Regions from separate parts of the Homo sapiens genome. Here regions 1 and 3 are each linked to region 2. The links come from fine-mapping of genetic effects on gene expression. A gene starts in region 2. Each other region holds a variant in brackets. All regions are shown on one strand. Distances are from middle to middle. Region 1 has its middle 27 kb from the start of BARHL2. Region 2 holds the start of LRRC8D (leucine rich repeat containing 8 VRAC subunit D). Region 3 overlaps LOC105378850 (a long non-coding RNA gene).

Evidence for each region. PIP is the estimated chance that this variant, and not a neighbour inherited with it, causes the effect. A credible set is the group of variants that fine-mapping cannot tell apart.
Region 1: its variant is the best candidate, but not a certain one, in a credible set for the expression of LRRC8D in whole blood (INTERVAL, PIP 0.52).
Region 3: its variant is the best candidate, but not a certain one, in a credible set for the expression of LRRC8D in whole blood (INTERVAL, PIP 0.57).

What each region holds. Positions count from the first base shown.
Region 1 is chr1:90,740,219-90,748,559 of GRCh38, forward strand. No RefSeq gene overlaps it. Among named protein-coding and RNA genes, the nearest start is that of BARHL2, 27 kb to the left of the region's middle. The variant T/G (reference allele first, on the strand shown) is at 4,067.
Region 2 is chr1:89,817,294-89,825,634 of GRCh38, forward strand. LRRC8D (leucine rich repeat containing 8 VRAC subunit D) reads left to right here and starts at 3,739. Exons shown (of 3, transcript NM_001134479.2): 1 at 3,739-3,998. LRRC8D-DT (LRRC8D divergent transcript) reads right to left here and starts at 4,501. Exons shown (of 1, transcript NR_185885.1): 1 at 2,881-4,501. RefSeq lists silencers at 3,268-3,327, 3,768-4,117, 4,218-4,317, 4,408-4,617, 4,489-4,708.
Region 3 is chr1:90,387,348-90,395,688 of GRCh38, forward strand. It overlaps LOC105378850 (a long non-coding RNA gene), which reads right to left. Exons shown (of 3, transcript XR_001738147.2): 2 at 8,098-8,174. Among named protein-coding and RNA genes, the nearest start is that of LINC02787, 160 kb to the right of the region's middle. The variant G/A (reference allele first, on the strand shown) is at 4,237.

The DNA of each region.
Region 1 (8,341 bases), 920 kb after region 2:
TTCACCATCACCTGCTTCTAGTCAGGAATTACATTTCCCAGCATCTCCTTCTCCACGAGGTCCCTGGTCAGAGTCAGCATCTCTTCCAATAACAGACATTCCTTTGAAGCTTGAAAGGTTGGAGAGGAGAGGCCATAATACTCAGGATTTTGGTTCCCCCAACTTTTCCAATAGTTGATATGCCTCTAATTCTCTGCATTAAAATCCTTCATACTTGAAATATGTAGAGTGGCTTCTATTTTCCTGATTGATCCCACACTGTGTAGTCATCACCTGATTCAACTACACAGGGTATGTGGGTCCACTTTGTGACACATCTGTTGAGTGTGCATTCAACCTGTTCTTAAACACTTAAAGAAATGGAGAAACTGCCAATTTCCAAAACAGTCCATTACAACATAGAACTGCACAGATTTTTAGTAAGCGGTATCATAACGTAGAGTAGAATGACCATGGGTGTTTTTTACTTAGAAAAGCCTGGTTTATATCATGTTTGCCTCTTATGAATGTGGGGAAAGTTGCTTATCAGCTTCAGTTTTCATTCTGTAAAGTGAGGGCAGTAATTGTACCTACCTTTCAGGGTTGTTACAAGGATTAAATGAGATGAGGTTCATAAGCCATCTTTTCCTTATACTAACTACAAATCAGCATCCATGTAACTTTCAACATTTGGGCCTAATTCTGTCCTCTGAAGCATGAAGATAGGGCTGCAACTGGCCCACAGAGCACCTTTGCAAGAACAAGAGAAAGGTGCACCGTTTGAGCTGACTCTGCCTGGGTTCGATGTATACGGCTTGATGAGCAGAACAAGAGTTGGATTCCAGTGCCTACTTACCCTTCGAGTGAGCACCTTTGACCACAGTTAGAATAACCATCCACTGTGTCACTGCAAGCAGTTTCAATATAATCTGCCAGGAAAATCCTTCCTATATTTAAGACTTCTCTCAACTCCTCGACTCCCCTTTTCTCCCATCTCCAAACCAAACATTACCAGCTGGATATGAGGAACACCTCATGGTGAAATAGTACACTCTTCGTTAAGGAATGATTCCAGAGGATGAGGAACTGGAAGACTAATTATACCAGCTAAAAGTCATTCACATTAAGGTGTCACCTTAATTGTGCATTTGCATTTTTAAATGTTACTGTGAAGGTTTATGCTCTTGTTAAAGATGGTTGGACATCAGTGAGAATGTGGGGAGGGACGTGTATGTGCCTCCTGCTGGGAAAGGGGAAGGTATGTGAAATCCTAACTTGGGCTGCCCAGCTGCACCCAAGGGCCTCTCTGGTGTCATCTCTAGGTCGACACACCAGGGGAGAGTGGGACCCAAGGTTGATTCTACTTCCCCTCCAGGCAGAGGACCCGCTCCTAATATTTGTGGGGACCAAGGCAAGAGAACAAATGGAGGCTTATAGATCTTATGTCTAAATATTTAGAAGTTATAAATAAAGGTAAAAAACTGTTAAATAAATTGTTGTCTCTTACCTTGACAAATATTCATAAGGACAAAATTGAGAAAATGTGTGTAAAGCTATGTTTTTTATGTGACTGGCAGTCAGCAAAATATCAAAGATGACTGAATTAATTATTATTGTGCATGTCTAGGTGCTCTGTTGATGAGCTGGTGACACTTGGATGCATAATAAAGCCATACATAATTCATTAGCTATTATATATATTACATAAAATTAATTTGTCTTGCCTTCATTTAAAAAACAATAACAAATTATATTGGTATAACCAAGATTTTCATATGTGTTCTATTGACATTAATGAAAATTAGCCAATATTTTTAAAGTCATTATAGTTCATACATATACTCAGTTCATTTCAACTTGGAGAAACTTCACTCTGCTAAGGCAGGGTCAACTGGAATTCTCAATAAAATTCTTAAACCAATACTGAAGTTAGGAAGTGAACTTTATATATGAATTTAATAATTATTCAAAAACTGTAATGCAGGCACATGTAACAAAGTAGGGTTATTGCAGAACATATAAACTATTTTAATATCAAATGCATTACTATTATTTTAACATAACTATGTTAAAGGAATATCTAGATATTAATACGTAAAGTGTTTCTTACGTTTTTAATTTCAAATTTTCCAATGTTGGGTCATTATAAAGGAATAAAAATTAGGGAAAAAGTTAGCATTGATTAACTTGTTCAAATTTCTCTTCAATTAGGACTGTACTCTGAGCCTGGGCAACATAGTGAGACCCTGTCTCTTAAAAAAAATAAAAATAAAAATAAGCCATTAGTTGGGCATGGTGACTCACTACCTATTGTCCCAGCTACTCAGGAGACTGAGATGAGAGGATCACTTGAGCCTGGGAGTTTGATGTTACAGTGCACTATGGTGGCACCATTGCCTCTAGCCTGAGTGTCAGAGCAAGGCCATGTCTCAAAAAAAAAAAAAAAGCCGAAGATTGTACCTTGTGTACTCTGATCTACAATGGCCAGAAACATGGTTCCTATTGAAATTATAAATTATTGGTAATTATTTATACATGAATAATCTCCTTAATAGGTAAACATTTTCATTTTCTTGCTCAAATGTCCTTACATTTTATTGGAACAATACTTTTGTTGCATATTTTGCAATAAATTTTGACTTAGAAAAAAACACTTTGCTAAAATTTTTTAAAATACTTTTTAGCCCTTTTAAAAATGAAATAGCCAAACTTAGATCTATTTGAAATTTTTTGTTAATTTTTTGGTAATATTATTAGTAACACGAAACAGTTCACTTCAAATAACTGTGGATAGCATCAATTAAAAATTAATTTTTCAGGCAGGGTGTGGTGGCTCACGCCTATAATCCCAGCACTTTGGGAGGCCGAGGTGGGTGGATAACCTGAGGTCAGAAGTTTGAGACCAGCCTGACCAATATGGTGAAACCCCGTCTCTACTAAAATTACAAAAATTAGCCAGGCGTGGTGACATGTGCCTGTAGACCCAGCTACTTGGGAGGCTGAGACAGAAGAATCACTTGAACCCTGGAGGCAGAGGTTGCAGTGAGCCAAGATAGTGCCACTGCACTCCAGCCTGGGTGACAGAGTGAGACTCTGTCTCTAAAAAAAAAAATTTAATTTTTCTCCAAAGATCTGACTTACGTTTTATTTGAAATTCTTCTGTTGCTTAATTAACTTTTGTGGCACGTCTTGTGTCTTATCTAAATTAAACTTAGTTGCTTAAACAGCATTTAAGCAGCATTTCTATCATATGTCCAAGAGTGATTTTAAAGTCATCACTTTGTTTCAATGAAGTAATTCATCTTCGGGACGATTCGGAAAATATTGTATTTCATCTTTGAATTGCTATTGAAACAAAAGGTTGACACCACATCTCCTAATAACAAATTCAAATGTGTGCTATACATGACAAATGCAATTTTTTTAAAAAATTGGCCAGTATCCTAGATGATAAATCTTTCTGTTTATTTATCACGTTGCAACCATTGTCTTAGATGCTGCCCTCAGAGAATTTTTAAACAGTTTAAATAAAGGTAGGTTTTAATTTAATTTTTAAAAAATTTAATTACATCTTATTAAACATTTGATAAAACTAAAATTACTTGCAATTCTAAGGTTCAGAATCTAGTCATTAATGCAAAGAATAAATATCATGCTTCCTGAAGGTTACATCCAGACTTACATATACAATTTTAAGAGAGATATAAATTATTGCAAAATATTCTTTTTCTACCCCATGCAACTGCAGCAAATACTGTGCTATCTCCTGAGTACCTTTGGAACCAAACTAGAATACAAAGAGAAGCAAGAAAATGGGTACTTGGTGCTATTGGGAAATGATACTTTATTATGAAAAGACCTGTAGCATTCACACTATCTGAGAGGAAGGATTTGACAAGTTAGTTTGTCTTTTCCCTTACCTGAGTGTTTCTACCACTCAAATCCTCCCTGCACCCCACGACACTGTCTGTCTTTTACACAGATGGTGGCACAAGCCAAAAACCCTTGCGGTTTCAGATGCTGTTTAGAGGACAACGGGGAAGAGATGTGCCTTTTTCTGGGTCTTGAACTGTGTTCCTCACAAGAG[T/G]GGGTCACCCTGTGTCAATACTGACCTCCCATGCCAATTGTCTTTAGTACATATTTTGCGTGTGTGTTTGTCATCTGTGCAGTCCCAAAGGGCAATACTACCAGCAAGCTCCCTTTTCTCTGTGGAGATCTGACCAAGTCTAGCTCATAGGAACTATCTGTATCTTATACCAGATCACGTGCCCCTAGACCTTCCTTGCCTGAAGGGGCCAAGTTTGGTCTCTTCATTTCCTTTCCGTATGCTCCAAGTCTTTTATTTGGAGGGTCTTTGAAGCTGTATTGGGCAAATATCCCTCTTTTACAGATGCTAAAATTGAGAGTCAGATAGCTAAAGCTACTAGAAGTTCCTCATTTGTACAGGGCAGACTAGAGCCCAAGTTTTCTCATTCTTACTGGTCAAGTGGAAGCAGTGACATCTTTTGCCCAAAGCAGTAAAATAACCTTTTATTTTTCCCCCAAACAAATGCTGCCATATCCCCTAAATAGAAAAACATCTATGTGAGCCTAACACACACATAGCATTGGCAACATCTTCAAAAGTCTAGGTGTGGATTTTAATATGATGAAGTTGAGTTTTACAGTTCACACAATTCCAGGTTTCATAGTGATAAGAAATGTGGATCAGAATTGTGCCTGCTGTGTGAAGGTGATGGCAATCAGGTCAGCCATCCAAGCAGGATACACTTGACAGACAGAGCTCCCATGCAGGTCCCCCAAATCCAAGCAACATGTGGCTCAGAGTTGCCAAAGACTGTGCTTTCCTTTCCTGGCCCTTCAATGATACATCTCCCCAATGCCTTCTCTGCATATTTTCTCTCTCAAATTCACGGAGGTTCTCATTAGGAGAGCAGAAAGGCCTTTCTTCTAGCACTACTCACTTCCCAATGACTCTTCTCACCTCCTCCCGCTACCCTCCACCACCAACCTCCAACCTCTCCCTTTTGTGTACATTTATGTCCCTTCTATTGCATAAGGTCTCTACTGCAGCATTTAGCTTTGCAGTATATACCTCAGACAACACTCCCTCATACCCCCTAAATTAGTCTCATCTCTACAATTAGATTTTAAGCATTTTAAGATCAAAGGTTTCGTTCACACTTTTATGTCACACATAGTACAGTGCTGAACACATATATGGGCTCAATCACATTTGTCAATTGATGGATTAAACAAGTAAATTTTTTTTTTTTTTTGAGACAGGTTCTCCCTCTGTCACCCAGGCTGGAGTGCAGAGGTGTAATCATAGCTCACTGCAGCCTGGACCGCCGAGGCTCAAGTGATCCTTCCACCTCAGCCTCCCGAGTAGCTGGGACCACAGGTGTGTGCCACCATGCCCGGCTACTTTTTTAATTTTGTAGAAACAGGGTCTCGCCATGTTGCCCAGGCTGGTCTCAAACTCTTGTGCTCAAGCAATCCTCCCGCCTCAGCTTCCCAAAGTGCTGGAAGTATAGGCATGAGCTACCGCACCAGCCTAAACAAATAATTCTTAAACTTTTTGGTGTTATTCCCTTTATACTCTTAAAAATTATTAAAACTTCAAAGAGATTTTGTTTGTGAGGGTTTATATCTATCAATATTTACTACATTAGAAACAAAAACTGAGAAAATCCTAAAATATCATTGCAAAACAAGGCAACAGAAGTGTACTTCTTGTCGTGTCTCTGCATAGTTGCAAGGAAAACATTGGGATTTTAAAACAATTTACTGGACAACATTGAGGTTACAGAGATTTTACCAAATATAATTGACAATAACTACTTACAGCCTAGGAAGTAGTGAGAATAACTGAGTTAATCTCAGAAAATGCACATTTTTGTATGCTAAATCTACCTTAGAAAATTGTAGAAAACACAAGGTCATACAAGCATCCATTTCATAAACTGTCAGGGCAATGACATCATCCCATAGATGCAGCCTCTGGAACACTACGCCACATACTCATGAAAGAATGAGAATGAAATCGGTAAGTAACATCTCAATAAAAAAAAAAATAGTTTGATCTCATGGATTTCCTGAAAGACTCTTGGGGACCCCCAGAGATTTCCAGACCAGACTTTGGAAACAAGTAAATTATAGTCTTGGTTAATAAGACAACTTAAAGATGCTTGTTACATAAAATTACTAGCAGGAAATTATAGGACAATTGGAATTCATTTTCTTGTGACTGGCATTCGTGTTAGTTATCTAATTGCTGTATTCGTTCTCTCACTGCATTAGTCATCTAATTACCCCTAAAGTTCATTCCTTAAAGCCATAAACATTTATTATCTCACAGTTTCTGTGGGTCAGGAATCCGGGTGTCACTTAGCTGTCTGTGCTGGTCAAGATGTCTCATGAGGTGGCATTAAGCTTCGGACCAGAACTGCATAGTCCCAACTTACAAAGAATCAGCTTCCAAGCTTGCTTATATGGTTATTGACGTACTATTGGACTGAGGCCTCAGTTTCTCACTGGCTGTTGGCTGGAGGTCCCCACCACACAGACCTCTCCATAAAGCAGCTTACAATGTGGCAACCGGCTTCCCTCAGAGCAAATGAGTGAGAGTGTAAGAAAGGAGTCCCAAGATGGAAGCCACAATCTTTTTGTAACCTAATTTGGTAAGTGATATCCATCTCCTTTGCTGTATTCTATTTGTTGGAAGCAAGTCAATAAGTCCAACCCAGTGCTCAAGGGGGGCTACCAAGGGTACAAATATCAAAGGCTAAGATCATTGAGTTGCGCCTTAGAGGCTGCCTACTATAGCATTTTTTTCTTGCAAAAAGAAAGGCATGATTCAGCAAATGATTGATAAGCCACAGACCAGTTCCTTGCATTATTCTGTTCTTTTTCTGCCTAGCTTCCTCTTGTCATCATACCATTCTTTTCTTCCTTGTAATACTGCTGTTACCAATTAAGTGGCTTCATGTTGGTGAGAAGAACCTAAGATATTTTAAGATTAGAACTTTATGGCTTTGGTTCATCTCATTTGAAATTTGTTGGATTGCTATCTTAATAAATATTTCTCGTCCATGGTCATGTCAGGCCACCAGTTGTCCTTCAAAACCCACCTTTTCCATATTTCTGGGCACATGGCCATCTAGCTAGCAATTAGGTCTCCCAGCCCTTTGACAGCTAGAAATGACCATGGGCCTAAAGTTTGGGCCAATGGGACATGAGAGAAAGAGATGTGTGCAACTTCTGTGTTCTCTCCAACTTAAGAAGGGGCCCATGTGCTGGATTTTGGCTCATCACCCTCTCTACCAGCTGGAAATGGTGACAACTTGAGCAGCCTTGGAAGCCATATGTTGGGGATGGCAGATCCACCCTGGCTTCATGGGACAGAGCTACCCGTTTAATCTGAATCAGTCAGATTGTTCCATGAGAGAAAAACAAATCTCTATCTTATCTAAGTCACTATCTGGAGGCCCTGTTTGTTATTAGCAGTTCAGCTTTTTCTCCGGCTGTTATACTTGACATAAACTAGACAAGGAACCCAAAGACAGAACTGTTTTACTCTCATTTAAAGTACTGCTTTAGTTGATAGTGGGGGAGGTTATGTGTGTGTGTAAGAGGATGGGGGTGTGTGGGAATGCTATTTGAAAATAGCATTTTCAAATTCGCTGTGAACCTAAAACAGCTCTAAAAAATAATGTTTAATTTGAAACAAAACAAAACACTGTTTTTTACTTAGCAAATAGTAAATATTTTATTGATTCATTCATTGACATCATTCAATAAGTATATAAGCACCTACTACTATGTGCCAAATACACCGGGGACATAGTGGTAAACACCATGCTCACATTCTTTATTTTCATGGAACTTTCTCTTTAGGGAAAACAAAGCTAAATAAGCAATTACACATGCAATTAATTAATTGCAATTATGGTAAATGACAAGAAGGAAATATAGAGTGCTATGTGGGTATATAAAGAGAAGCCCTGACCTATAAAACTCTAATAGAGATCATGTATTTTTAAAAAAACAAAAGAATAAATGCTTAATGAAAATAATTTCAGATTGTAATACATTTTAATTTCTTGAAAGAGATTCTCTAAGCAGTAAAAAATAAAAGTTGATATGTGACATTAGCCTCTTTCCTCACCTGTAAAGTTGAGATAAAGGTTTCTCTTCCTATTTCCCTATCTCCATACCAGTTCTTCACATGTATAGCATTTTCCAATAACTCTTACGGTGCTGAATCTAGACAAAATAGACTGACCCCAAGAATAATCTGAATATGTGTGGAAAGGGACACGTGTATCTGTGTTTCAATGAGACAAAATGGGCCTGAAGG
Region 2 (8,341 bases):
TGAGCTAGTCACAGAGCCTCTTTAAAGCCTTCTGTTTCCCATCTATTAGATGAGGATAGTATCTCATAGGGCTGCTGTGAAGACTTAAGGTATGTGTAAAGTATTTGGAAGAGGACCTACGTAAGTATTAGTTGTTATTGTTGATACAGATTTACCATGTGCTGAAACAGTTGCCAATTCTCATAACAAGTAGCAAAGGATAGTAAGTGCTCTATTTTTTGTTGAATAGAACTTCCTAGAAGCCATGTGTTTCTCTGTAGATATGTCTAGAGTAGCCTCAGATTCCTTTTCCATCATATTTCTTAATTCTGAACCCAACATCAAATCAGTTATTGTCCTTTGCTGCCTCCGTTCTGTTTTTTTGTGGAAAAGGGGAAACTGATGGGCTGATTTTTTTGTTTCTGTTTTTACATCATAGATAATCAGAGTTATTTTTCATTACTTATCATTGGTAGACTTCTTACTAGTTTGATCCATGCTATAGTCTGAATATTGCGTCCCCCGCCCCTCCATTTTATATGTTGAAATCCTAACCCCTAAACTGATGGTATTAGGAGGTCATTCCTTTGGGAGGCGATTAGGTCATGATGGCAGAGCCTTCATGAATGGGATTAGTGGCCTTAAAAAGGAGGCCTGAGAGAGACCCTCACTCCTTCCACTATATGAAGACACAGCAAGAAGTCACCCTCTCTGAACTAGAAAGAAGACACACACACACACAGACGTGGAATCTGCTGTTGCCTTGAACTTCCTAGCCCCCAGACTATAGGAAATAAAAATTTTTTTTTTTTTTTTTTTGAGACAGAGCCTCACTCTGTCACCCAGGCTGGAGTGCACTGGCATGATCTTGGCTGATTGCAACCTCCACCTCCTGGGTTCAAGTGATTCTCCTGCCTCAGCCTCCCGAGTAGCTGGGATTACAGGTGCCTGCCACCACTCATAGCTAATTTTTTTATTTTTAGTAGAGACAGGGTTCCACCATGTTGGCCAGGCTGGTCTCGAACTCCTGACCTCAGGTGATCCTCCAGCCTAGGTCTCCCAAAGTGCTGGGATTACAGGCATAAGCCACCATGCCCAGCCAATTTCTGTTGCTTATAAGCCACCCAGCTTATGGTATTTTGTTATAATAGCCTGAATATACTCTAAAACAATCCTTTAAATTTTTAAAATTATTATTCTGATTATCAGAGTAATATGTGCTCAATATAAAAACAATTCAAACATACAGAACTTGATGAAAGGCCCTAGTAATCCCACACCCAGAGATAATCACCATTAACAGCTTGTTATATATGCTTCCAGACTTCTTCTGAAGCATACATTTAATAACATGTATATCTTAATGCAAAAAAGTACAAAAAAATGGAATCATACTATTCATATTGTTCTGCAGCCTCCTTTTTTTTCACTTATAGATTTTGGACATCCTTCCATGTAGGTACAAATAGATCTAGCTTATTTTTGTTAATGGCTGCTTATGGTTTCCTTCTACAGATCTAGCAAAATTTGCTTAAACAGTTTCCTACTGGGACTTTATTATTTGATTTTTACACCATTACATGTTCCCACTATTACAAACAATGTTGCAATAAGACACGTATATATATATTTTTGTACATGTGTAAATATTTCTGACATAATTTTTGCACAAATATGCTTAAAGCACAAACTCTTAGACATGGACTTACCTATTCAAAGGGAACACACCTATTTATCAAAAATTTCCAAATTGTCCTCCAAAGGGGTTTGTCCAATTTCCTCTTACTTTTACAGTGTGTGAGTGTCTATTTCTCCACATTTGACTGTTTTCTGAATATCACTTTTTTCTTTTCTCGATTTATACCAATCTTAAAATCATGTTTTTCAAGTCTAGAATCACAATTTAAAACCCAGGGAAGATCAAAAGAACAAAGTACAGAAGATTGGTTTTTTTGGTTTTTTGGTTTTGAGATGGAGTCTCACTCTGTCGCCCAGGCTGGAGTGTGGTGGCACCATCTCAGCTCACTGCAACCTCCGCCTCCCAGGTTCAAGCGATTCTCCTGCCTCAGGCTCCTGAGTAGCTTGGATTACAGGTGCGTGCCAACATGCCCAGATAATTTTTGTGTCTTTAGTAGAGACGGGTTTTCACCATGTTGGTCAGGCTGGTCTCTAACTCCTGACCTCGTGATCCTCTTGCCTCGGCCTCCCAAGGTACCGGGACTACAGGCGTGAGCCACTGCACCCGGCCTATAATTTTTTTTTTTTTTTACAAACAGCAAAACATTCCATATTCATTATAATAGTGGGCTGTTTTCAATAAAAATATCACACCACTAGTTGTTAAGTTTTAAAAGACCTCTCATCTCTTAGATCAGCAAATCTGACACTGATTAGATCACTTACACACACTCCCTGCCCATACACCTCCTTCTTGGCAGTGTGTGGAACAGGAGTGGCTGCTGGCAAGGAGGGTCGGGGAAGGAAAGTGAGAGCAAAAGGGCCGAGGGCTCAGAATCTGGTGGCATCTTGTAACGGGTCTCGGGCAGTCCCTTGAGTGTATTCTGGACCTCTCTGTTCATGTTCCTGTTTGGGCTGCTCTTCTTCACGTCCAATGCCTGAGGGCCAAGTGCTCACCATCCAAGGGTCAATTCTATCAGCTCCTCTCTGAATCCTTTTCTGAAACCCTGGACAATCATTCTCTTTAATGTCTCACTGTCTCTGAACCGACACCTTCCTGAGTACCTGTAACATTTGTGCAGCATGCTTATTAAGAATATTTAGATGCTGGGTAAACGTTGATTGAACATTTGCTGACATGGAGAGATATTGGTAGAAGACAGATTAGACTTCCGATGGTTTACAGAAACACATGGATTCAGATAAAAGAAGATATGAAAGCACTGGGTTGAACCACATATTTTATTACAACCAAATAACTCCAAATATCCCGCCTTAATTTATTTATTGGCCCCTGCCTCTGCTCACCCACAAAAAAGACTGCAAATGAACCCCGATCCTACAACAACAACAACAAAAAACGGTGACATTATCGGGCTGCAAAACCCTCTTAGCATAGAATAATCTTTTCATCTGCCTCTTTCAGATGTAACATATTTTTGACGAAAAGAATGGGATGAAAACGGCGGGCTCAGATAAAAACAAGAACCGACTTTCCAATACAGCTTCAATAACAGACGGAACACATGAAGCTGAGAAACTCTCCATGCCAAGTAGTAGTTGTGTGTGCCCCAAAGCTCAGATAAGTACTTCTCCTTAGAGTTGGAAGGCACTTAAGTGACTTTTTAACGTAATTCAACTCCCCACCCCCAGCGCCAAGTCTTAATATCAGAGTTTTAGTCGACGGGACAGCCTCCTTCGCCCAGGACGGGTGAAGGCTCCTGACCATGCCTCGCAGCTAACTGGCAGCTGCGCCTGCCCGGCACCGAGCCCTGCCCAGGTGGACGCTTGCGAGAGCATTACGGCGATGGTTATGTAGGCTGCCGTTCTTCCCCTCCCAAGCACCTGCTCCGCATCTAGCAGTCGCTCGCCGCCAGTCTCCAACCCCGGGTCCCCTCCCTCGCCACACAGACCCCGTCCGGTCAGGCGCTGCAGGGCCACCGGAGAAAGCGCTCGCAATCACATGGAGGCCCGGGCCCGCCCCATTGGCTGCGGCCGGGCCAGTCGCGGCACTCGCCGGCTGCGGTTGGTCCCAGAGCTGCAGCGCCTGCACGGGCCCGGAGTCCATGTTACGCTTTGTCTAATTCCCCTCGTTACAGAGTCATGTGCTGCTGCTCCCGTCGCCGCTGCTGCCGCTGCCGCTGCCGCCGCCCGTGGTGCCCCGGCTCCTCCGCCGCGCTTCGAGGTGGCAGCCGCGGGCGGGGCCGCGGGAGCAGGGTCCAGGGTGCAGCGCGCCTTCGCCGCCCCGGCGCGTCCCGGTGCAGCCGCCGCCCGCCGCGGGTGATGCCGCCACCTCCGGCCTCAGCATAAGCCGTGGCTTGGCGGCCGAGCTGCACCCCAAGGTTGGTGCGCACCTCTCCCGGCAGGGGCCGGGGGCTGCGAGGGAAGGCGACGCGCAGGTGGAGCCGCGCCGAGCCGGAGCGCGCAACCCTGGCGCAGGCGCCGCGGCCCGAGCTGCGGTTGCGGCCGGGAACTCATTCGGGGACGTCCGGGGGTCGGGAGGAGGTGGCGGCGAGCGGAGTGGGCTCCCGTTTGCTGCCGCCAGGGCCTGGGAGATTGTTCCGCTTTCTGCAGTCTGAGCGTCGGCCGCTTCGGCCCCGGGCGGCCGGCCCTGCGGGAGGGGAGTGCGGCTTCCTGGCTCCTGAACCCCTCGCGCGCGCTCCCTTCTCTCACCTCCCTCCGCCCTATCGGAAAGGCGGGGAGAGCCGGTTTCGGCTCTGCTGGTTCCTCCCGGAGGTGGGTGTTTGGTGTCTGGCCTTGCTGGCCCGGCGTCCAAAGGTGAGCCCTTTAACTTCTCCAGAATCGCCTCCCCTCCGCTTCCTTCCTGTGCAGGGTGGGCTGCGCTGGGAGCCCGGCGGGCGGGGGCGGGGAGGTGAAGGCCCGCGCCCCGCCCCCCGCGCCTGTGGGAGGGAGCTGGGGGCCCGCAGGTGCACCCAGCCGTCCGCGGGCCGTCTCCGGGTTGGGTACCGGTATAATCCGCTTCTAGCTTGTTTGGAGGCGTGGGCTCTTGGGAGCGGGACTTCTGCTCAAATCCTGTCCAGGGGCTTGAAAAGGAGGAGAATTGGGGGTGGTTGCCGGGAGGACCAGCACCTCCAGTTACTGGAGGGTTGATAGGGGCCTTCTCCTTTCCGTCACCCTTTACTAGGGGGTATCCCTTGCAGATAAATGAGATTTTTTGATTTCTTAAAAAGCCAGCTGCAGTGAAGAAGAACTGCTGCAGGTCGAGGGGAAGAGAGGTAGGTCCTTGCTGGAGAGGGAGAGGTGGGCTGTGAGGTTCCAGGAGCACGCACTTGGGGTGTGTGTGGCCGAAAGTATGGAGGTAGGGTTGTGGGAAGGAAACAGCCGAGATGAGAGGGAGGGCGCACTCAGGATGTAGGCGGAGAGATGGGGAATAGGTACTGGGGAGTCCTAGCGGAATGTGGGGCCCAGCTGGAGCCGCTTGGCTTATATTTGGCTCCTCGTTGCCTCGCAGATTTCCTGCTCTTGGATCTTCAAAAATATTTTTTTGTTGGACAAAGAAAACTCTGAGGACATATTTTGGAAGAGCTGATTTCTGGAAACTTTCCTTGGCAGCTTTGATAGTAAAATTCCGTACAGGCAGCGTTTATTGAGCACCTATTACGTGGTTTGTACCGGACTTTGGAAGAGTCTGGACAGGCAGGGAATCCCCGTTTGCAGTAATGATGAGGGCTGTCTACCTTATAAACAAATAAGGGGCCCCTCCCAGTGCCAAGAATGAGAGTGATCAGACCTTCCTCGCCATAGCATCTGGGACCTCTGCTTCTTACAGACCTGTGGGAAGAACCCTGCACCATATCCTGTAAATGGGGTCCTCAGGCAGCATTTATTTTTGCAGTCCAAAAATAGTGACCAAACACCTACTGTCAGCTAGGCGAGAGTTGGGGTTCTTGCTTCATCTGTCTTGACACCAACTAACTAAATCCCTGTTAAAATCCAAGTGCAAGATGGGGAGGAATCTGAGATGAAAATTAGGTGGTTAAAACAGGGGTCACGAAAAGTTGATTTGGGGTGTTTGGTCTCTGTAGGTTACTTATGGAGCCCCCCATAAAATGATTAGGTAATCTATGGAGCCAGGGAAAAATTCCAAAATCTTGAATTGGCACAGTTTATTTATATATTTGAACACTATGTTAGATTTGTCTCGTTTTTATTGAGAGTGTATGTGTGCGTGTTGATTAAAACCTAACAGATTAGAAGGTTGGAGAGGAAACTGTCCTTAGATGACCCAGCCTTCCATTACCATGTGGAGTAGCATATGATGCAACACTTAAAGTATTGAGCCATATTCATATCATTTTCTCCCTGCTGTGTTTTCCAGCATTTAAAAAACATGGTCAAAACTTGGCCCTTTTTTTCTCAAAATCGCTAAAGTTTAATGGAAAGAAAAAAGAAAAAAACTAGGCCCCTTTTCCCTTAATTTTTATATTATGCAGCATTTTTAAAAATTAATTTTAGAAAATTCTGATGTGTTTGTCATGTCCAAATAGTTAAATTGTTTTGGTAGCTATAGTTTGGAAATTAGACTCGATTCTGTTCTCAGTACTGTAGACAAAATAGCTATTAAAGTCAAAAGTTTGTCAAAACTTTGTAATCATGATTATTATGTTGTTGAAGTGGTAGCTTGTAAGAGATTTCAGTTATTTTTAATTGGAGCTGGTGTTTGACATTCTAAGAAACACCAGTTAATATTTGTTGAGTGCCAGCAGGAAGCAGAGAACTGGAGTGGGTGCTGTGGGATCTTAACAAGGCAGGAGAGGATTCTCGTAGTAATCACAGAGAGCAGATAAGACAGGCACACATGAGGATGCCAGCAGAAGCAGACAGTTACAGTTGTCTAAGAATCCAGGGTGTGTGGAACCAGATAAAAGTTTATGAAGTATGCTGAGGGAGGAGTGGAAATCTGAATTGACTTTTGACAGTGGTCAGGGATGTGGAACAGAATATACGACTAATAAAGGAGGGTAGAGGGAACCTAGTTCGTGAAAAACTTAACCACAAGTCAGTGGTGTTAATCATTTGCCTCAAGACCAGTGGCTCTCAGAAGTAGGCAATTTTGCTTCTCAGCAGACATTGAGGAATGTCGGAGACATTTATGGTTATCATAGCGAGGTGGCAGGTGCTGCTGTCATCTAGTGGCTAGAGGACAGGGATGATACATAAGCATCCTACTGTGCACAGGACATCAACCCCCTTCCTCCTAAACAAAGAATGATCCTGTCCAAAATGGCGATAGTGCCTGCCCTTAGATCTCAGAATAGGTCTTGAAGGGAGGTGGTTCTTGACATGGGAGGAGTAATAACATTGAGCTTAGGAAGCTGATGTAGGAGACTTGTGCTCAGGTCTGATGTGATTAGGGTCTGGGCAAATCCTTATTGAAAGAAAGGGGCAGTTTGGAGGGAGATCATAGCAGATGAGCACAGTATGATAGTGGAGTAAGTTGGGAATCATTGAAATCAGAATTGGCATTTTAGAGGGGCCCTATCCAATTTATTTATTTTAGTAAATTCTTACCCTTTCTAGGTAACTTTTGTTTAACCCCAGGAACCGTGAACTTCTCCTGAAGACAGGTTATTACACCTTTGGACTGTTTGTTGTATTTTTACTTGAGCTGAAGACTGTCTCCTTGAATTTTTTTTTCCAATGATTTTCTTCTTTTGGAGCTGCCTACTCTCTTTGAATGCACCAAGACAATATGATGTCCCCTTACCCCCAGTTGACTTTGCTAATGCAAACTAGTCCCAATTCTTTTCACAGTCTTTTATTGGGATGTGGTTTCTCGATGTCTTCTCAGTTTATCGGCATCTCACATGGAGAATCTGGAATTGAATATGTAATTGAGATGTGATCTGGCCAACAGAGAGTACAGTAAGACAGCTGTTTGCTGAGACCTAAGCATAAATGTCTACTTACTGCACCTTAAGCTTACAACTGCCTATGATTTTCTTAGGCAGTGCCGAGCACAAACTTCTTTATTAGATAATCATGTTTTGGATAGTCAAAACCCCCAGATATTTGCTCTGTGAGCTGCTGCATCCTGTATTTCTTGGGCAGATTTTTTTGGAGAAGTTTTTTTTGTTGTTGTTGTTCCTTCTCAATGTTATCCTATTTATTTTGATCCAGTCTTCTAGCCTTTGACATTTTTGAATTTATGTCTTCTAATTATATCAGAGAGGAATGGAGGATGACTTTGTTGAAAACTGTAGTCAGTACTATGTAAAACTCAGTAGTTTGGGGGCTCTATTGGTCCTATATGAGAGCTGAGATCACTGAGTGATGGAGGTGAGTTCTAGGGCTAATTAGCCCTTATTTTGGGGGCTTCTGAGAAATTTAAATGCCAGGCCACATGGCATTTAGCTCTTGAAATGTTTGCACCTGGGGTACCATTTTGAAATTGTTCAAGTCTGTTGCAAGCTTCTGAAATCTGAATTCCTTCCTCTGGGTCTTTGTAGTTCTGTTTATGTATCTGGAAGAGAGTTTCTAATGTTTTGTGCAAATCTGAAGCTTGCAGGGTTAGAGTTGCTTTTGAAATTTGTGAGAAGATAGGATAACTGGCAAAAATCAACTATGGACTTGTTTCCCACTCAGGCTAAGCTTTGTTTTCTTTTTTGCTAATATGCCTCAAATATTTAGTGACAGCCTTATATTTAGAGAAGGAGAGAGGATT
Region 3 (8,341 bases), 570 kb after region 2:
GCAATATCCTTAGCTCATTTTTATGAAAATTTTATCAGTGCTTTTTTCTGTACTACACTCCAATTGGGATGTCTCAGAATCTAAAGCTCAGCTTTGGACATGAACTTCTCTCAACCTGGCTGGCTGCTGCTCTAAAGGTTTCAATATTTTATGGGCTCTGGCTAACTCAGCCGTGAGATTCAAGCTGCAGAGATTTAACTCTAATGTAAAATCATGAACGGATGAAAACTGGGATGTCATAAGTAATACATCTACAAGAGCAGGATGCAGTTACCATTTTTAAAAGGGCTTTAAAAAGAAAACAACATTCTCTGTTCTGTCTTTATGCCCCAAAATGAAAAGCCCCTGAGCTATTGTACTAACACAGGGCCATCTTTTCTTCCCTGCTTTTCTTCAATTGTTGCTTAATTGTTGTGGTGGGCTGGGGTTTTTTCCCCTTAAGGTCCTCCCATCCACATGAAAGCCCCTAATGTCTGCATTCCAGAGAAATGGACACTGCGTGGTCGAATGTGTATAGGCCAAACCCATTTCTTAGCATCTTCCTCTTTTTGTCTCAAAACTGATTTAAAACATTTGGAAAATCTGTCTATTCAGCTGAAGTGTTCCAGTGCATTCTTTCCTGGAAACAGTGGGGTCACATGTGATCTGTCTGATGGACTTTTCTGCTGCAATCTGTAGCCATTTCCCTCGAGCCCCGCAGAGCCTAGCAAAGCCGAGGAGCTCTGTAATGGCTCCAATAACAACGTGTTCTTTGTGTGAAAGAATCCAGGGGGAAGAGCTGGAGTAGACTGGCCAGCAACAACAACAAAAAAATCATTTTTTGTACTCATTTATTTCTTCATTATGTGCTTTGCCATTAAACATTCTTCACAGTAAATACACCTTTCCGTAAAACACTGCCCGAGCACGAAAAAATACAGAAAGTTCTGTTTTTTAAAAAAGGCTGTAGTCATCATCGCTAGTTATTAATCTGCTTCTAATAAGATGGTTGATGGCAGGAACTGCATTGCATTTGTCTGTACTTGTAACAGGAGAGATGGTTTCTAGACAGAGCTTAATTTATCTGTTCGAAAATGTCACCTGATGGATGCATTGGAATAAATCCATCTTTTCTAGTTTCAAAAATATCACAAAATCAACACTTCACTAAATTAACTATAGAATCACAGAACTGGAAGAGACCAAATAAATCAGGTGGTGTGCCCATTCCCTTCAGGGAGCTGGATGTCCCACCAAAGGCAAAAAAGTGACCGTGCTGGTCATTACAGCTTCAGGGACCCCAAGATCTTTCTCAGAACCTTCCTAGTACTCTGTCATGTTGAAAGTGGCAGTTCTGCCCTTGCATTCAAGAGAAGTTTAAACTATTTTAATCATAGCCCAGCTTCTCTTGTTTAGTTAACTACTTATAACATGGAAAACAATGCTTTCACATAAACCTCCTTATATCCTTGAAGATAGTCATGAAGTTTCGCCTCTGATCTTATCTTCTGTAGGATAAAACCAGCTTCTTTAGCATATTATATAATGGGCACTTCTCATCTATTTAATCAGTCCCAGAGGGTTGTGGCTTCAAATGACACTATAATATTTATAAATTATTAAATAAATTAAAATAAGGGTATTTTGCCGACTAAATTGGCAAGATATCTATATATCTATATCTATATATGCCCATTGTTGGTATGGGTGAGAAGTGAGACTTCTCATATGAAGCCAGAGGGTGGATGAATTGGTACAGCCTATTTGGAGGACAATTCAGTACTAGGTATCAAGAATCGTCAAATATACATGCCCTTTGACCTAGTAACTCCACTTCCAGCAATTCATCCTAAGAAAATAATCAAGGATATGGGAGAGATTAAACTACAGAAACACACACACACACACACACACACACACACACACACACACACACACACAGAGAGAGCATAAAATTCGTTTTGTTAAAATAAAAAAAAACTACCTAACTTTTATTATGTACTTAGTCTATGCTCTAGGCACCAAGCTTAGCACTCTATGCATGTTATCTTATTTAATCTTAAAAACAAACCTATGGATTACTTTTTATTATTATTACCATCATCTTCATCTTCATTTTACTGGGAAAAATTGAGGCTTTAATATTTTAAATAACCTTTCAATAGGAAGTGGCTATACTGGAACTTGACACTATGTCTATTAAATGACAGAGGCTTGTAGTCTTTAACAGTATGTTATACTAGTTACACAACCATACAAAAAGACTGGAAGTTAATAATCCAAAACATTAACATTTGTTATTCTGAATGTTGGGATTACTATTTGATTTTTTTCTTTAAATTTATTTTAAGATATCTAAAATAAACATAAATTTCTTTTATTTATTTCAAGATCTCTAACATGAACATGTATTTCTTTTATAATGGGTGAAAAAAGATACTGTAACTTGGTACATCCCTCACTGACCATTTCCCATTCTGTCTCTTTCCCTCACACACACACACACACACACACACATATATGTTCTATGTAATTTATTCTTCAAACACAATTTTTTTCCAACATTCAAAATTTTTGTCTTCATCATCCTCTCTAGGGTGTGTGCCCCTCTAAAGAGGCTCTGAAAGATTCCACTAAATGTAGACGAGCCCCAGTTCTTGCCTCTGAGGGCCATATTAATTTTTCTTTTCTAACCCAGATGCCAATTAACATAGCTCCATTAGGGACCACTACTACCAAAGCAATCATATAGCCCTCAGTCTAAAAACAAATCATTCATGTAAACTCAGTCTTGTTTTTAAGCCTTGTTTATAACTGCTAAGGATGTGAGTGCAACCTTCTGTCTGAAGGTGAGATACATTTTTTCCTGTTCTATACATTTATTCATCATCAGCAGTAAGTGCACAACTGGACGTTTGCTGCAATTGCGGGGATGAGGATGATGAGGATGATGATACACGAGATCAGCAAAGCCATAGTTGATTGTGCTGCAGTCATGTTGCCTGCAACAAAACACACCATGGACTATTTTAACTTGAAAGGAAGTAAATACATATATGGGAAGGTGCCACATTTCTAGCCCTATTCTTTCAGCAAACATTTATTGAGCAAGTATTATGTGTTATGCACTGTGCTAGACAGTCTACAAAGATGAATAAAGCATAGCCTCTGCCCTAGGGGAGCTCACAGTCCGGGGGAGAGAGACTATAAACATAATTTGGGGTCTGACTGTGAAGAACCTTGTTAAAAAGTTTTGACTTTATATTTTGGGTGTGGAGACTTTATGCTTTGGGTGTGGTTTTCAGTTATGACATAATGTAAGCTGCTTACTGAAGAAGTACTGTGATGAGAGTGTAGGAAACGAAGTAGGCTCTGAGAGACCATTCTACAACTGTGGCATGTTCAGGGAAAAATTTGTGCCATTTTGAACTAGGGCAGTGGGGATATTAATATATATTTTGTATATTGACTTGGCAAGTCTTCCTGCCCAAGTTGAAATTGAGAAGGGGTGTGTACAGTGAGGGAGCAGAAATTATGGTTGTCTTTGAAGCTTTTAACTTGAGTGACAATAGATGGTAACACTATTCACCAAGAATGGGAATACAGAAGAAAAGTTCATAAGATGTTTTTGGAAATGCTAAGTTTGATGTATCTAAAGAACATAATATCAAGATTTTTAGAAAGAAATTGGGAATGTGTATCTAGAACTCCTAGGAAAATTTGCTAGCAAGATGTTTTGTGATACTGTCATACAAATGTGAATTCAACCATCAGGAATGTTTCATTTTGCATTAAGGTATTTTTTCCTACCTTTCTTCTGAACATGGAAGCCAAAGTAAGTTTCAGAGCATGCAAACCCTTTAGATTCTCCATGCTTCTGCCCTAAAATGTTGATGTAATCTGGTATGGTTTTCTAATCACTTGTTTAATTGTCTGCAAGCTTCTCAAAGGCATAGACTACAGACAATGAATTGGCTGAATGAGTCACGGTAGCATGGAGTGAGGGAATGGGAAACAAATAGATTACACAGTCTGTTTTTCCAAGAGTTGCTTAAAACTCTGCAAGCAGCAAACAAAAGAAGTGTGGCCTGCAGACATCTTCAGGGTAGGGAACAGTGAGCCCTCTTCACAGCCTCACTATACCATAGTTCCATCCTTGACCCTTGGTTTCTCCCTGTTTCTAATCCCCCAAAGCAATTCATTACCAAGCTATTTTGTTATTTCAGGCTAATATCTTCTCATATCTATATTACCACT[G/A]CAACATACCAATGACGCTTCTCTAGTCTTACATCCTCTAAGTCAGGGGTATCCAATCTTTTGGCTTCCCTGGGCCACACTGGAAGAAGAAGAATTGTCTTGGGCCAAACATAAACTACACTAACACTAATAGTAGCTGATGAGCTTTAAAAGTTGCAAAAAAAATCTTGTAATGTTTTAAGAAAGTTTACAAATTTGTGTTGGGCCACATTCAAAGCTGTCCCAGGCCACAGGCAGCCCAGAGGCCCCAGGTTGGACAAACTTGCTCTAAGTCATTATCCATACCAATACAGTATTTCTACAATGCACATCTGATCTTGTCATTCCCTTGCTCAAAACATTTTAATGGTTCCTATCTCAATCAGAGTAAAAAGCAAACTCCTTAGGCTTATGATAGGGCCTGTCATCCAAAACCCTTCTGTTTACCTCTCCTGCCCATCTATCTTACCACCTAGACTCCTTTTTCCTTCTTCCCTACTCACACTTTCTAGGCACATTAAGCCATGTATGACCGCTGGGCCTTCCCTCTTCTAGCCTCAAGACTTTAGTACATGCTGTTTTCATAGATTGGAGCCCTGTACCTTTCCTCTTATCCCCCTCAGCCTGACTAACTTCTGCTTAGCCTTCAGGTCTCTGCCTCGTTATCACACCTGTCTGCAGGAAGCTTTCCCTGATACTCCAAATCTTAGTTTTATGCCCCTATATGTCTCTTCATGGAACCCTATGGTTACTCTCATTGCAGTACTTTCCACATGGCACTGCAACAGCCTGTGGACCTGTCTTCCTCGATAGATAGTGAGCTTTTCTTCTTTGTCATTTCCCCAGCACTAAAACAGTAACTGGCCTATAATATGCTGCCTGCAAAGATCTGGTGAATGAATAAATGTCCTGCAGGGATGGAGAAAACATGAGCATGTGGCCTGGAAAAAGAGGCTTCATGCTTTCTCTATATCCTGTCTGGGTTGAGCCAGCAAATGAGGTCAATATTTAATCAATTGATCAACTAAGTGCAGTTAAACTATAGCTTCTCATACAGAGTCAGAGATGAAAGAAAATTGAAGTTGGAATTTTCCTCAGAAAAAGAGTAAGCACTGATATTTCAAAGAGAAGATTCTTAGATGAAACATACCCATCTCCCGGTTGTACTGGCAGGTGGGATGTTATTAGCATCCCTGATAAGCAACAAGATGGAGCCCAGGGCTTATGTATGTGTCTCTCTCTCTCTCTCTCTCTCTCTCTCTCTCTCTCTCTCTCTCTCTCTCTCTCTCTCTCTCTCTCTCTCTCTCTCTCTCTCCCTCCCTCCCCCCCTCCCTCCCTCCCTCTCTCTCTCTCTCTCTCTCTCCCTCCCTCTTACCCTCCACTCTCCTCTTGCCCAAGCAAAACAATCTTAAGAGAAGGGAAGTGCAATTACACAGTATCTGTTTAAAATTTAAGAGGACAAAAATGAGTTGAGGGGTTTTTTTTTTATTTTTGCAGGAAACAAATTAGCCCACAGTAGACTTGTGCCTGCAAGCAGCCCATTTAATTTGGTTATTTCCTACACCTTGAGGCTAGCTTTTTCTCACTAATTCTGCCAACCTTTTTCCATATCAGGGCTTATCTCCTTGTTGTATCCAGAATCATATGACAAGCAAGAGTCCTAGAATATTTTATCTACCTAATCATCCCACTGCCTTATTCCAGAAAGAATCTAAGGTAATGAGTCATTTTTTATAAGCACAGTCTCTCCCCTCCATTGATGCCCAATGGTTTCAGCCAGTGCTTATTAAAATTTCATTAAGCATCTAGTTAAAAATCAGTTGTTAAAGTTCATGCTTCTAATATGCTTGGGATATTAAGGACATGAACCCTAAAATGACCATACAGGAAGTGCCTGCTTGTGGCTGTCTTGTTGCAGAAGATCGTTGTGCCAGTTTGAGCTGGCAGAGGAATTTGGATCTCCATCCTGAGCTCCAGGATTATGTGCCCAACTGCCTACAGAAAATTGCCATTTGATGTCTCCATGGTCGTCTAAAATTTGAGATGCTCGAAATTTAGCTCACTATCTTACTCTCATCACAATACAGGGACTAAGAGCACAGAATCTGGTGCCAGACTGCCTGAGTTCAAATCCTTGTTCTACCACCTTACCAGCTACAAATGGGAAAATGACTTAATCTCTCTGGGCCTCTCTTTCTTCACCTATAAAATATGAATACTAATACTGCCTAGGTCTATCTTCTTTTCTCTGCATTCTTCGTGGGACAATTCTCCTCACTTTCTCCCTAGGTCTTGCTTTTCTCCAAACTCCACAGTGCCTTGTGTATGCCTCAATCATGGTCCTTACTACTCTGCATGGCATTTGTCTGTTCACTTGGCTATCTCCTCTTTCCTTTGATTTTCTTGATGATGGATCTGAACGGTATGGTTAAGATGAAAAACTCTGGAGTCATTCTGCCAGATTTCAATTCCAGCTCTATCACTTCCTAGCTGTGTGGTTTTAGGTAAGTTACCTAAACTCTCTGTGCTTCCATTTTCTTACCTACAAGGGTAATAGAAATACCTACTTCATAGGACTGCTGTGAAAATAAAGTGAGTTACTTCATGAAATGTGCTTGATTCTCTTCCTGCCACAAAATAACATAAGTAAATAGAGGTCATTATTACTATTATTATTATTAAACTGGACCTATTATTAATTGGGACCTCAAACTGTGCCTAGCAAAAAGCTGGCAACTTAAAAATAGGTATAAAGCTAAAAAAAGACACAATACCCCTACTTGGGACAGATTTAGCTCCTCCTCACTGGGCAGCAAATGTTTGCAGAGCACTTAGGCCTTGCTGTTCCACTGCTACTGCATCCTCAGGAAGGGAGGCCCTCAAGGACTGTTGCGTAAGACACTGTGCCACTTGTTGCAGAAGGAAGAGTGTGCACTTTGAACTCAGAAGTCCTAAGTCTGCCAGCAAAAACCTCCGATACTCTGGACAAATTACTTAACATCTCCAAGTTTCCTCATCTGTAAAATGGAAAATAATCATATCTACTTTGCAATCAGCATCTATTAAAGTTAGGAAAAAAAGACAATTTCTCAGCTTTATTGCAAAACCATTCTAACTAATCAAAACTTACACAAAACTCAACAGAAGAAGGTAGTAATAGTGAATGTTGGCACAATGTTAATAGGGAGGGAAACAAGGTCATTAAAGAGAGCTCCAAGTGTACATTGGAGATGAGGAATTGATATAAATCTTTTTTGATATTTTTCTGAGATCCTGGAAAGAAGGAACTTGAACAAGAAGTGTCAAGTGGAAGAGTGTTGATCATTTACAGCCTGTTCTGGTGTCTGTCTTCGATTCATTCTGGGTCGGCCTCATACAGTAGATGAACTACACATATGACCATGATTGTTCCACCTACCTTTACCCTAGGTTAGTTAAAGGGGTTGGTTTCCTGCTAGACCCAATGCTGAGCCCAGCACCTGGCATGTGGAAATAGTCAATAAGTATTTGTTGAATTGTTGCAACTTCTTTTAAAAGAAGTCTTATTTAATACAAAACATCTTTAAAATGTATTGACATCTACTATCTCTTTTATCCACTGCTGAATTTTTTAGCCTTCTAAAATTCATTCCCTTCTAGGCTACTAATGTAACTCTATAGGTTCTGTTCAAAATCGATTCTCCTTCCCTATATTCCAGATTCAACAAAAAGGTACCAGCAAATGACCAGTTGAACAGGTTTAAAACTTTGGTTAGCCCTCTCCTCTGAATTCTGGTTTCAAATATTTCAGTGTCTACTCAATATTGCTGTTTGGATATTATACCAGTCAAGCTCCCTGGAGGTAAAGCCCTTATTCTCTCCATCCTGGAAACTCCAGCTTACCTGTTGGAGGGGCTTCCACCCTCAAAGTATAGGCTTCTCTCTCTTTGCATCTCCTAGGCAAATTCTCCTCAATGACACTAAAATAAGTATAAAAATATGTGTTGGTTTTCCCCCACTAAATTAAAATATAAGCCTTATTGCTTTTTCTGAATATATAAATAATACATTCTTATTATTAGAAAGTTGAGCAAATTCATGTAATTATAAGGAAGAAAGTTAAAAAAAATTACTTAAGTCCCACCAC